Linked DNA regions of Homo sapiens: region 1 is linked to region 2. Evidence: fine-mapped expression QTL. Tissue or cell type: whole blood. Region 2 holds a variant in brackets; the other region holds the start of a gene. All regions are shown on one strand. Distances are between the middles of the regions.

Region 1 (6,357 bases), 130 kb after region 2:
TTCCCACAGAACCATAATAATTAAAAAAACAATGTTCAAATATAGTGCCATAGGGTATTAAGAAAGAACTCACCCATCTCAGTTCAATTACTAAAATTAGTTAAGATTCAAACACTTTAAGAGCAAAATCTCTTTATTGTTTAAAAAATATCACAGAGTAATCAGATTTCTTTCTTAAAATAAAATTTTTAAATGTTCACTCTTCTGTTCTCTTTGGAAGCAATACTTTAATACATTGTAACATGCACAGCAGAGTAAAGTTCATTTCAATAGATCTACCCACTCTACTTGAATTTAAGTAAGTTACTATGTTGGGGGAATTAACTGCTTTGGCTGGAAAGTTTGCTCCAATTTTTATCCTTCTTAACTCAAGTAAATTATAGTTCACCTCCTCTGGGTCACTTTTAGCTCAACACTGCACTCGCCAATGATGGCCAGAGAGAGAGATTATAATTACTTGTCATCAAACTATTTTTGCCATGGTTATATATATTAATGTCTGTTCATCTACAGACATACATCTGAAATTCATAACTACATGGATATATTTTTCATCTTTTTCTATACATCAATTGGAAATAGATTTAAAAAGGGGCAAGCACAAGTCATTATTAAGAGGGCAACTACTGCGTTTTTAAGAATTATGATCAGGCCAGGTGCGGTGGCTCACGCCTGTAATCCCAGCACTTTGGGAGGCCCAAGTGGGTGGATTGCGTGAGCCCAGGAGTTTGAGACAAGCCTGGGCAACATGGCAAAACCCCATCTCTACAAAAAAAAAAAATCAGCCGGGCACAGTGGCTTGAGTAGTCCCAGCTACTCGGGAGGCTGAGGTGGGAGTAGACTTGAGCCGTGAGGGAGAGGTTGCAATGAGCTGAGATTGCGCCATTACACTCCAACGTGGGCGATACAGCAAGACCCCATCTCATAAAGAAAAAAGAATTATGATTATTCAATAATACAAGTCAGTAAGCATTCTTCCAGAGCCAGCAATGCAGTCTCCTTTCAATTGTAATGAAGCTCCTGTGTTTGGGCCTTATATAATACTACAGCTAAGGAAAGACATAGTTTTTTTTTAATTTATTTATTTATTGAGACAGTTTCGCTCTTGTCGCCCAGGCTGGAGTGCAATGGCGCAATCTCAGCTCATCGCAACCTCCACCTCCCAGGTTCAAGCGATTCTCCTGCCTCAGCCTCCTGAGCAGCTGGAGTTACAGGCATGTGCCACCACGCCCAGCTAGTTTTGTATTTTTAGTAGAGACAGGGTTTCTCCATGTTGGCCAGGCTGGTCTCAAACTCCCGACCTCAGGTGATCCGTCTGCCTCGGCCTCCCAAAGTTTTGGGATTATAGGCATGAGCCACCGGGCTCTGCCCAGTTTTATTTTTAAGGTACTGAATTCAAAAAGTTTCCTTCTATGTGTTAAGAATTGTCACATTAAAATATAAAGGCAAGAAAAAAATTGTAACACGATCTGTTTTCTTGGAAATTTACAACTTTGCATCCAAGGATGATTTTGTTACCTTGTAAAACAGCTTCCCAATACAAAAACTAATAACCCAAAGAAATGTTTCTACTGCTAAAACAATTACAATTAAAAATGAGTAAAACTCTAACTGGAACCACAAGTCCTGATACTCTGAGGCTCTGGGACTCAATTCAAAGGAAGTAGTCTCCAACAATAACAAAAATCAAGACGATCTCCGGCAGTGGAGAAAAGCAGAACTGAAGAGAAGAGGCGAGGTGATGTATCATGAAGAGATGAGGCCATCAGCCACTTTCGACACAAAAATCTCTGAGGCAGCAGAGCTTGGTGGTATATACTACCTTGGTTCTCTCCTCTTGTTCCCTTACTTGGACTCATAAACCTCTTTAAGACATCATCCATCTCCTCCAGAACTAACTGGGGACTTCAGGAGATGAGTGGGGTATAAGTTCAGAGATCCTGGCTTCAAGCAAATATCCCTATTAACAGAAAATAGGTGAGGGGAAGAAAAACAAAGAAATAAGGGAAGAAAATTACTTATAAACACATAAGTTTTGGGGGAAGTAGGGAAAGGGAAAGAGGAATGACAACTTAGGTCCGGGAGAAATTATTGCTAGTACCAGGACAAGTGGGCAAGTGAAGTGCCCACCAATCCGCAGATTAATGAGCACATCCACCTTTCTACACTTTATATCCTGGAGCTAGGGTAGGGACAAGTCTAGCAGCCAGATGATGGTTCAATTTCCCTAACAAAACTAAACAAAAATGTAAAACCCTTTTCTGTAACTAACTACTCTAATCTGTAGAGAAAGATAGTCCCCGAATCAACATTGTACAAACCATAGTTACAAAAGATCATATTTATATTCACCTGCTCATTCACTTATTTTCCTGAGCCCCTAATAAGTAAACGCCAAGGAAATCAGACACAGCTCCCACCTTCACATAGTTGACAGTCTAGCATAGAAAATAAGATGTGCTAAAACACAAAAGGAAACACAAAAACAAAAACATTTCCAGATGGGAGATGTGAAATTTTTAAGTGTGAAAAATTATCTTGTACCAAGTTTTACATGAAACTGGGTTATACAATAAATCCCCAAGAAGGATGAGAAACAAGAAATGGGGGTGGGGGGTATGAAAAATACTAATGCTAATACAGCAACTAACAACACCAAAAGTGACTTTAAATATGTTATATAAATTTAATCTACCTAACAACCCCATGAGAGAAGTACAATTTTCCCCCATTTACTAAGAAGGAAAGTTGAAAGAGACTAAGAAGTCTGTTTAAGAGGCACAACTTTTATTTTATTTATTTATTTGAGACGGAGTTTCACTCTTGTTGCCTAGGCTGGAGTGCAATGGCGAGATCTTGGCTCACTGCAACCTCCGCCTCCCGGGTTAAGAGGCACAACTTCTAAGTGACAGAGGTAGGATTTGAATCTAGGCACCCTGATTCTTACCTCTATTTTGCCGCATATAATTATAACAATATTATTACTAACACAACAACGCCGCTGTAGATTGTAGATCCATAGGCTACATACTTTCATTCATTTTCTTTGAATACTCACATGTCTATAATTTACAAATGAAAACATTAAGACTCTTAAGACGTTAAGAAACGTTTCCAGGTTATGCAAGTTACAAGAAGGTAGAGCCGGGATTCGAACTCAGATGGCTCAGATTCCGAAGGCTCTTTTCACGGCACCCCACACCCGAACTTGACTCCTTACCCTCAACCAAGCCAAGCCGTATCCCTCCTGGGAACAGCCGGCACCACCCACTCCAGCCTCGCGCCTCATAGACACACTTACTCGGGCGGCGTTCCACCGCCCGCACCCTCCCAGCTCTCCCCAGCACCCTCGTCCAGCCGGGCAAGGCTCTCACCAGGCGGGAGTCGTGGGACCCTCGCAATCTTGCTGGTGATCTCTGCAGTGAGCACCGCGAAGTCCTGCTCGTAACCTTCGAAGTCGGACGACATGGCGGCTCCGGAACGAGTAGCCCAGGCCAAAGCCTAGGTCAGGGAAAGGGCCTCGAGGGGCAGCGAGGGGCCCCGCGGCTTAGGAACCCCGGAAGGTGCCCCCGAGAGCAGAACGGAGAACCGGGGACAGCTCTCAACCCAGCCGCTTCCTGGTTGTTCGTCGCAATCTCGGTTCTCCGGAAATTGGGTTGCGTGCGTGCTTTATTTTCCGCTCCGACTTTAAGATAAGTAAGTTCGCAAAGGAAAAGCGCCCCAATTAGTGCCTCCCCCCAGAAAAGCGTATGAAAATATGCAAGTTCTGAGGGATCATTAGAAGCGTTTTTTCCCCCCTTCGTGTTCTGGGAATCGGCTCCGGATCCACACGCTACAAGGCACAGCAGCTTGCTTCCGGAGGGAGGTTTGAGGCGGCGAACCTCCGGAAGTGACAGTAACAGAGACTGCGCAGGGGGCCTGAGCGGGAGAGTCCTGGCGAGGGCGCTGGCCGAGAGGTGCTCGGCTTGTAGCAGGTCCCGCACTCCAGCCTCTCGCTGCCAGGGTTTGCTCTCTGCTTGTCCTGGGCTGAGGTGTCCATGACGGAGTCATCCAAGGAGGAAAAAATCTGTTCCGGGTGAGCCCAGGCCGCCCCGGATATGCGATGGCTGAGGAGCAGACACCAGGGACCACACTGAGGTGGGAGTCAAGGCAGGGAATATAAGCACGATTTTGGTGGTCTTTGTCCCACCAGAGTGGGAGCAGGCTCTCCTGAATGTTGAGACCAACCTGGCTTACCAGGATATTTCTTCCTTGGGTGAGGATTTATTTCTAAGCCCTCTGCTCCATGACTCGGGCGGGAAACTGAGGCACAAGTCAACAGCGTCTGCTGCGTGGTAGTCTGTATTATCCATGTAGCTCAGATCCTCTTCCAGATCTTCAGATCCAGTCCAGGCAGAGATGCCCTTCCACAAATCTCTCCGGAGCTCGCCGCCCTGCCTTCCATTTCCCTCGCTCCTGGAGGCACTTCCTCTTCTTTCTTCCCTCGAATCTTCTAATTCAGGTTCTTCTCATATACTCTTCTGGTCATAATTTCACACACACCACACACACTCTCGCTCTATCTCCTCCCTTCCTTTCCTTGCATGCTCTCTTTGCTTTCACTGTCGCTCCTTTACTTTTGGGCCAAATTGACTGTTCTCTTGATGTTTGGGTGGCGGGGTGGAGGAGACTGCAGGCAAATGGCATAGACCATGTCTGACTCATACTTGGCTTAATTCAAGACTTCATAAGAGGCAGCTTAGAATTTCATAAAGGGAGGTCGTTGACTTGCCTTCTATTCTGGTTCACCTGTTACTTGTGACCTTGGTCTAATCACTCAGCCTCTCTAAGACAATTTCTGTTCTATGAAGAAGGAAACTGAATTAGATCAACTCTAAGGTCCTAAAATTCTTTGTCTTCTCAAACTATTCACTAAGCGTTGGATGGTGACAGTCCCCTGACAAGCGGAGAAGGAATAAAAAAAACTATTTTGGAATCGTGTATCCAGTTTGCATGCCATTCAAACTTGTACCATATTTTGGATAAGTCAAAAGTAGTTCTTTTTGACATTTGACAAGATATGCATCCCAAAGTGTAGTGCACTTGTGAGATGCTGTTGTGTAGGTGTTTATTGTAGTTAACAAGTATGGTATGCAATAAAGGTTTTGTTTTGTTTTGTTTTAACTGAACTTTCCCATTTTGTTTTCTTTAGGTTGGGTTTCAGACCAAGACACTGGATTCTCCTAGTTAAGATAAAGAGCTTTGGGTGCCTGACAGTGAAAATGGTGTAATCTGCGTTAACAGTTCACAGCTTGAAGGCATGACAATTAAAGAACACACATGGACTTGTGGCACATGGAAATGTGCGCACAGAAAAAGGAAATCTATAATTCTTTTAAAGTAGGAAGGCATTCTTCCTTGCCAAAATGGGTACATTCTGTTCGGTTATCAAGTTTGAAAATCTACAAGAATTAAAGAGACTGTGTCACTGGGGTCCCATCATAGCCCTTGGTGTTATAGCAATATGTTCTACCATGGCCATGATTGACTCTGTGTTGTGGTATTGGCCCTTACATACAACTGGAGGAAGTGTGAATTTCATCATGTTGATAAATTGGACTGTCATGATTCTTTATAATTACTTCAATGCCATGTTTGTCGGTCCGGGCTTTGTCCCTCTGGGGTGGAAACCGGTAAGAAAGATTCTGTAAGACAATGAACTTTAATGATAATCGTATATTTGGTTTTTGCCTTATCTACTAACCAATAATACCAAACACAGCCTACTGTTTGTCCTCACAGAGACTAAGTATATTACTCTAATCACTGATCATTTAGGCTCGGAGACTTTATTTCATATCTGTTTGAACACATTGATCCAAAATAGCATTTTCCAAAGCAATTTTATTGAATATTTGCTCTGCATTAAAAAAAAGATGGAGGTGGGGTGGAGGTGGGATAGGTTCATGGTCAAAAGTTTAGGAAACATCACATGTCATACACAGTGAGGTTTGGCTGTAGTACCTTTTTTCATGTAATACATTAACATCCCTTAGAACTGAGAAAAACGCTTTAGAAACTGCTGGTTTAAATCATAAAGTTTTAAAATCATTGCACTGAAAATATAACATTGGGAAGTATAGTCCAAATCCATTTATAGCTTAAAAACTACTGGGAAATTTATGCTTATGAATGTCCATGTTTCCTGCTAAGGGACCACACCTGATGGCTTGTCAGAAAGGCAGAATCTTGGGCTCCACTTCAGACATACTGAAGCAGAATCTTTATTTTAATAAAGTGCCCAGGTGATGCTTAGGTATATTAAAGTTCGGGAAGCACTGGTGTATATCATGTGCTATGTACTATTCAAAATGCGTA
Region 2 (7,848 bases):
ACTTGCCTGGTGAACTGACCAGCCATACAGTACAATGGCCACAATTACTAAATTACACTGCCTGTCACTGCCTTTTGTATCACACCTCTAACAGGTGCCATTACCATGATAGGCAAATTGTAATAATCCATTCACAGCACCCACAGCCTTAATAATGTATTTTTTTATTTTACATAATCTGTGTGTGAATACCACAAGGCATTTGAATAGTTAGTAAATACATAGGACTGAAAGACGGAACTGCATGGAATGCAGCCACAAACAAAGGCGCTTAGGACAACAGACCTGAATGCAACCGCATTCCTGATAAAGCGGATATACACACAAACATATCCAACAGAGAAATGGCCTTCAGATTTGAGGGTTTTCTAAAATCAAACTTAGGGACCTGAGAAAATGAAAAAGAAGACATTACCAAACCGAAGTTGTTATCCGGGCTTAAAACTACATATGGTGTCTAGGTGAGTAAAGCCATACAAATCCTCTGCTGTTATTATCAGCACCCAGGGCCAGAAGGCACAAGAGAATCATGAAAGTACGAGTTGAGCTCCAAGAACTCTGCTCTTGATCATCGCTTATCCTTTTATCGCTCCCCTTTCCTTTCTTTATCTCTATAAGATGCCCACATGCATATAAGACATGAAACATGAAACCACTTAAACGATTTGGGAAGAGTTTACAGAACTGCTCTAGTATTGAATACATGTATCAGCAAACGTGCCTCCCTTCCTGGGCATCATGGTCAGTGGTAAAGCTGGGCAGGTCACTGATGGAGATTTAGAGGGTCTTATTTTCTTGGAGGTTTTTTACAGCCAAGAGATACTTACTGGTGTTCTTCAAAGCTGGTGCACAGTGGTGGTCTCCAGGTGGCTGACCTCACAGAGGAGTTATATTTACAATATAATAATATTTATACGTTAAAAAAGTGACTAAAAACACGTTTAAGTTAAAAGGCACTAATCAAGTATAAGATGGCATCACTATTATAGATTAATAATTTAGAACACTTCAAGTTTAAGTATTGCCTTGTTAGGTCATAACAAATTTAACAAGGTAAGCGTTTTGGAGTTTCCTCTCTACCAAAGTCATTCTTGGACCACAAGTCTTTAAAATCACTACTTTTCTACCACCTAAAAGGCACAGCCATGCCCTCAAAGGTTTCCACTAGCTATGTCACCATGAGATCTGGAGAAGGGCTCACAAGCAAGATGACCAGAGATGGTTCCACAATTTCCATACTTAACAGCGACCTTGGGGGCTGCTGGGGTGGAAGGAATGTACTTGGCATGTGAGGAGAACATATATTTGGGGGAACAAGAGGTGAATTCTATGGATTGAATGTCTTTGCCCACTAAAATTCATAGATTGAAACCCTAATCCCCAATGTAATATATCTGGAGAATGCACACTGGGGAGGTCATGAGGTCATGGGATCGAGGTCTGCATGATGGATTAGTGCCCGCATAAGAAGAGACAGGAGAGAGTGTCCTTCTCTCTCTTTCTAACTCCACGACAGAGCAAGAAGACAGCCATCTGCAAGCCAGGAAGAGAGTCCTCACCAGAATTCCACCATGCTGGCACCCTGATCTCAGACTTCCAGCCTCTAGAACTGGAGAAATAAATTTCTGTTGTTTAAGCCACCCAGCCTGTGGTATTCTGTTATGGTAGCCTGAGCTGACTAAGACAGAAATTAGCATCAAGACAGAAAGGTGTGTCAAGGAGGTAAGTCAGAGATATTGCCGTGAAGTTGCATTTGCACATCAAACATGTTATTTTTACTTAGATGTTATAGTAAAGATATTCCAATTGTAGTTTAGAGCATTTTGCCTATTAAGTTTCTTCTTTCCACATATTAGGTTGTGATACTATCAACCTAAAGTGCCTTTCAGGGGAGGTGCTAATAGAGATTATGGAGGTGGCTAGTGTCCTCCCTCTTCAATTTGCCCCTTAAATTCTGCCATTGATGAAGACGCATCAGGAAGTGCTATTTGCTAACAGGAATGCTGTCGCTGATCTATAGATCTCTATAAACATAAATGGAAATTCCAGTGTCTATATCTGCATCATCATCATCATAATCAATCATCATCATCATAATTTATCAAGAGCTTACTATTAATATATACCTTGCATTGTATAAGGATTTCACATTATCACATCTAATTTGTCTACCAAACCCACAAGGTAGGTACTTCTGTTATCTCAATCTTGCAGATTAGAAAAGTGAGGCTGAAAGCCTAAGTAACTTACACAAGGTGATTTTTATGAGTCCCAATAAAAATCAGACCACATACTCAAATTGGTAATTTAAGCAGACCTTGTAACAGAGATAATTTAAAAGGCGTGGGAAACCACAAGGCCTGGCACACTAACCTGGGGCAAGTAACAGTGGACAAGTTATCACCCCTAGGCTTGAATATGGGAAGGGAGGGAGGAGTTATCAGGACTCTGAAAGAAAGGGCTATGCAGAGAGAATGATGCAGCCAGCCCACTGCAATCCCAGAGGAAGAGAACCAAGTGAATTCATACCTGGACTACACTCTCCTCCCTGTGTTCCATCTTCTGCCAGAGCTCCCACGGGGTGACCTAACTGGAACCCAGAAGGCATGCGGAGCCCACTGGTGTGATCCATAGAGTTGATCTTCCTAGGAACTATGCAGGGTGCATGTGGGAAATGCAAACTTATATTTAGCATGATCATATGGTGTATAAATGCTAGTAGGTCTTGGGTTCAGATCCAAATCTATTGCTATGGACTATCAGGCTATATACACTGCCCTCTAAGAAGACATGTACATTCGTAATTCCAGTACGTAGTTATTCCTAAATATTCTATATTCAAAATCTTGAAATTCTCAAAATCTCCATTTAGTCAACCAGACTCCCACATTCCTTCTTTCCCTTCTTGGTTCTCTATGCACACTGTGAAATGTCAATCACCTGATGCCCCCCTTTTCCTCCTATCTGTCACCCTGATTTGGCCTTTCACTGCCTCCCCATCTGGCCTGCCTCCCACAGTTAGCCATTTCAACTTTGCACTCCCTACTACCCTACAGTCACTCCCTCTTTGTTCTCCTGTCACTCCTAGTCTGCTAGTTCTCAAAAGGCATCAACTTTCCACTGTTCACTTTCTTGGCTTCCATTCTTGGTCTGCCAAGCAATCCTGGGGAGAACTGTGAAACCATGTTATTGAGCCCAATACACATTAATGCTTCCTAACCTCAGCTGGGCCTTTGCGATGGTTCAGCAATTTCCAATCCCGCTCCTGCTGAGTCACCTTGACATTCCCCACCACAACTGTTCTCAGCCTTTCCCATCTTCTTTCTAAGTTCTTGACCTTGCCTTTCACCTTCAGGGAGTAACTTGGCTTCCTATTTGGAATCATGGTGATTCTCCAGAAGTTCTCTCTTCTATATTTATACATTATTCAAAATCTATCTTCTGCTTCTTTCACCCCTGCTTCAGAGGAAGTGTTTCTCCTTTCTGAGGTTACATCTTCAACTTCTGCTGTTGATTCCATCCCTTTGTACATCTTCCAGGTCCTGAAATGATCAATGAGGTTCCTTCATGCTGGCATCACTACCCCTTTACCAGTTTCCACCTCTAGGCCCCAACACATGATCAGGGATCTCTAGCCTGAACGTAAGAAAAAAAATAATAATTCTAATCCTCATCAAAACCACCTTTTTTTCTTCCCCAGTCACTTTTTCTTAAAAAGAAAATTCTAGGATCAACTTTTCCACTACTCAAACTTTTCTGTTCCTAAAAGCCACCACTTCCTACCTGTTTGAATACTCTCTGGGTCTTCTATAGTATTTAATTATTCTAAGTTACTTCTCTTTCTTGAAAAATCTCTTTCTTTAGCTTCCATGATGCTGCACTTCCCAGAGTTATCTGCAAATTCTCTTCACTTACTTTCTCCCACTTTCTCTTTTCTCCTGTGAAATGCACTTTCCTTAGGGTTCTAAGGCTCTTTTCTTCTCTATTAGTATTCTCTGGGTGATCTTATTTATTCCCGTATTTTAAATGTGTTTCTGAAAAGTAGCATTTATGAGATGACTTTAAGTGGAACATGAACTGACACTTTTTTATTTGGAAACTTTGTTCAATCTAACCTTAGTCAGCATCTATTGTAAGATATACCTTTTTTTAGTTTTTATTTTAAAAGACAATGTCTCACTATGTTGCCCAGACTGGTCTCAAATTCCTGGCCTCAAGCCATCCTCCCACCTCGGCCTCCTAAAGTGCTGCGATTACAGGTGTGAGCCACAGTGCCCAGCCAGATGCACCATTTTTTATACACTACTCAGAAAACAGCTGTCAACTAAATTATGACACTATATTTTCTTATCATTTAAAATTTTTATTTTATGCTTATTCAATGAGCTCTTTTTGACTCAGAGATCTTACATACATCTCTCTTGTGCATACACAAAATGGAAATATAAGCAAAATGAATGGGTTAAGGTTTTCCTAGAATTTTTCCACACATAAGTGTCCACCTCTTCTGATTCACTTTTCAACTTACAGTCATCAATGTCCTCTGCACCTGATGCTGCATCAAGGGTACTGGGATACGGCATCTCTTAAGTGTGTCTCTGGGATTATCTTCCATGTTGCTGATACTATTCTGTAAGTTTCCATGTACCAGAAAGTAAGGTTTTTCAGATGACAATTAAACTCATATTCTTTTCTATAAAGATCCTTAAATGGTTTGTTGATAGAAACTTACACTTTTCTGCTGATGTCACCAGGAATAGCAAGCAAGTTGGCTCATGTGCTGAC[A/G]ATGACAAGTATATCACCACTGTTGCTGGCCTGCAGAGTTTGTAAGATGCCATTAATTGTAAAACACTCTAATTACAGAAATGTTAAATTGTAAAAAGATACACATCTTACAATCATGCAATATGGTAATTATACATCTAATGGGTATCTTAAAAACTATATCCATCACATCAAATTCAAGATATTATTGTTTAGAATGGGGCTACGCTTTCAAAAAGTGAGCTAACTTAAAATAGATTTGAAAATATTAAGTAAAAGTATCATGCAAATATGACAAAAAGCTTACAAGTTGCACTCATATGGATAAAGTTTGAAATATATAGATTTAAATGACTATCAGTTCAAGAATGATTTATGTCTACATGTCTAACTATAACTTCATTCCTAAGCTTCAATCCCAGAGGTTTGACTGGCTACTCAATGAAAACACTTGGGCACTTTGTTAATATCTTAAATTCAGTATTTTCTGCCCTCCAAACCTATTCTTCCTCCTGATTTTCCTTTACTGTTTACTCAATCAATATATACCTTTTACTCAACCAGAAACCGTGGATTTCTGATAGGGTTTCTCCTAACTCTCCCTTCATCCCTGCCCCCCACCTCCTATCCTCAGAGCCAAATTGCTGCGTCTGTTGATTCTTCCTCAGTGATGTCTCTGGCATCCATCCTCTCTTCTTCATTCCTGCTCTCACAGCCCTAATTCGAGCCTCAGTTATTTCTTCTATGACCTGCTGCCATACTGTCTGAAATGCTTTCCTTAGGGTTTCTTCTCCTCTGAGCTGTCCTATATGCCACTGGCCAGATTCGTCTCCTAAAGCATCGTTATCACCAGGTCACTTCTTGGGCTCAAAAAGGTTCAAACAAAACAATAAGAAAGTTACTTCACATTTACATAGTATTTCCGGACTTTTTTCATTTGATTTTCTCAGCAAGTCTATGAGGTCGGATAAGCGTTATTAACCCCATTCAAAAGAAGAAATGAGAATAGAAAATGGGTAAATGATTTGCTGAAACTTAAACAGCGAACGGATTTGGTGGTCTGATGGTCTTTTCCCTGCATCATGCCCTCTTGCAATTCTTCACTGCCTGGAAGGCTGCTTGGCTGATTTAACCACGTACATATGATTCTATGTCTAATTTTAAAATACAATTTTTGATTAAATTATATTTCCAGCTTGTCCATCTCCCAGTTCCTTTCCCACACTACTACCAGGATAATGTTCCTTAAGTATAGGCCTCATCATATCACCCTGTCATTCATATGCCTTTAATAAGAACATATTAGAAGCTATTGAACACAACTTTTTACTTGGCATGTTATTTGTTCACAATGTTATCCCCACAGGGGATGGCTTTCTTTGTAACTGCTCCCAATCTTCAAGGCCCCATTCCAAATGTTATCTTCTTCTTCAACCTGGACTTAGTTTCCCAAAACCCTCTCACTTTTAACTGTTTACCAAAGAGTGCCTGGTCTACTCTTGGTGGTATATACTTCAATCATTATACAATTATATATTTAGATATTAGGGAAAGCTTGACTGGTATGTCTAACTCATGCGGATAAGGATATGTAATAAAAAATTTCAGTTGCTTTAAAGTTGGTTGATAGAAAAATATTGTTATAGAGTGAATGTCTCTGTCCCCCAAAATTCACACGTTGAAGCCCTAACCCCTAGATGTGATAGTACAGGTAATCAGGTTTAGATGAGGTCATGAGGTCTCCATGATGGGATTAGTGTCCTTATAAAAAGAGGAAGAAAGATCAGAGCTCTCTCCCCACCACGTGAGGACTCAGTGAGTTCTTTGTAGGCATGTTTTATGTTCCCTCTTGGAATATACAAGCTCTAAGTTAGAGCTAAAACTTATTTATCTATGCATCCCTAACATAAACTGTGGATTGTGACCTTATAGACGGATTATAAAATCAATTTAGAAATCAAGACTGCCATTTCTTTTTTTAAAACAACAAGAGTAGAAAATATTGGCATATACTATCTGTAGTTAGCAAGGCTAAGTATTGTTTCATAAAATATTTATTTCAGTTTTGTGTGTGTGGGTGTGTGTAATATAAATTGTGACGTGAAATGTATTTCTTACTATAGGTCATGATAACAAAATTTGAAAAATACTGCTGTGACATATATAGCCTAAAGCCCTGTACATATTTGGCACTCAAATATAGAATGAAGGAATGCTTCTTGAAATATCAGAAAACATCTTATTTTTAATCTTCGTCTGATTAGGAAAGTAATGCATCATTAAAATATTACCATTATAGATGATGGGAGGTAGTACCTTGTAATCACCATTCCACCATCCCACCCCAAGATACTCTTGAGAGTTTAATATTTATTCCAAGAATATATTTAAAATGTAATTTCAACTTCCACTTGGAAATTTTTTTATTATCTTCAGATTCCAAAGTTTCTATTTTGAGAATGGTACAGTTCTAAGGCTATTAAATTGGGTGTTTCCTGAATGTTAGCACAGTGCCTGGCTCCTAGGAGGTACTTAGAAACGATCTAATGATTAAATGCATGCTAAAACAGCAAATATTTTGAACATGTTAGGTCTGGCCCTTTTAGAAGAGGCAGGGGGCCGGGCGCGGTGGCTCACGCCTGTAATCCCAGCACTTTGGGAGGCCGAGCGGGGCGGATCACGAGGTCAGGAGATCGAGACCATCTTAGCTAACACGGTGAAACCCCGTCTCTACTAAAAACACAAAAAATTAGCCGGGCGCGGTGGCTGTTGCCCGTAGTCCCAGCTACTCAGGAGGCTGAGGCAGGAGAACGGCGTGAACCCGGGAGGCGGAGCTTGCAGTGAGCCGAGATAGCGCCACTGCAGTCCGGCCTGGGCGAAAGAGCGAGACTCCCTCTCAAAAAAAAAAAAAAAAAAAGAAAAGAAAAGAAAAGGCAGGGGGCAGGGTGGGAATGGGCAAAAGATACACAGAATGAACAAACAAAGAAAAATTCACGAGAGGTTTAAACTTTTCTACACAATAAATTGCTAATTGGAAGCTATTCTCTTCAACAAGATATCATCTAAAATAATGGAATAGTATTA

What was found. PIP is the estimated chance that this variant, and not a neighbour inherited with it, causes the effect.
Region 1: VTI1A starts here. The variant in region 2 is fine-mapped to the expression of VTI1A in whole blood (TOPMed, PIP above 0.99).

Annotation. Positions count from the first base shown.
Region 1 is chr10:112,444,485-112,450,841 of GRCh38, reverse strand. VTI1A (vesicle transport through interaction with t-SNAREs 1A) reads right to left here and starts at 3,627. Exons shown (of 8, transcript NM_145206.4): 1 at 3,375-3,627. The coding sequence starts at 3,468. ZDHHC6 (zDHHC palmitoyltransferase 6) reads left to right here and starts at 3,928. Exons shown (of 11, transcript NM_022494.3): 1 at 3,928-4,137; 2 at 5,192-5,672. The coding sequence starts at 5,406. RefSeq lists enhancers at 3,562-3,821, 4,022-4,141.
Region 2 is chr10:112,575,853-112,583,700 of GRCh38, reverse strand. All of the region lies in intron 5 of VTI1A (vesicle transport through interaction with t-SNAREs 1A), which reads right to left. Among named protein-coding and RNA genes, the nearest start is that of MIR4295, 54 kb to the left of the region's middle. The variant A/G (reference allele first, on the strand shown) is at 4,786.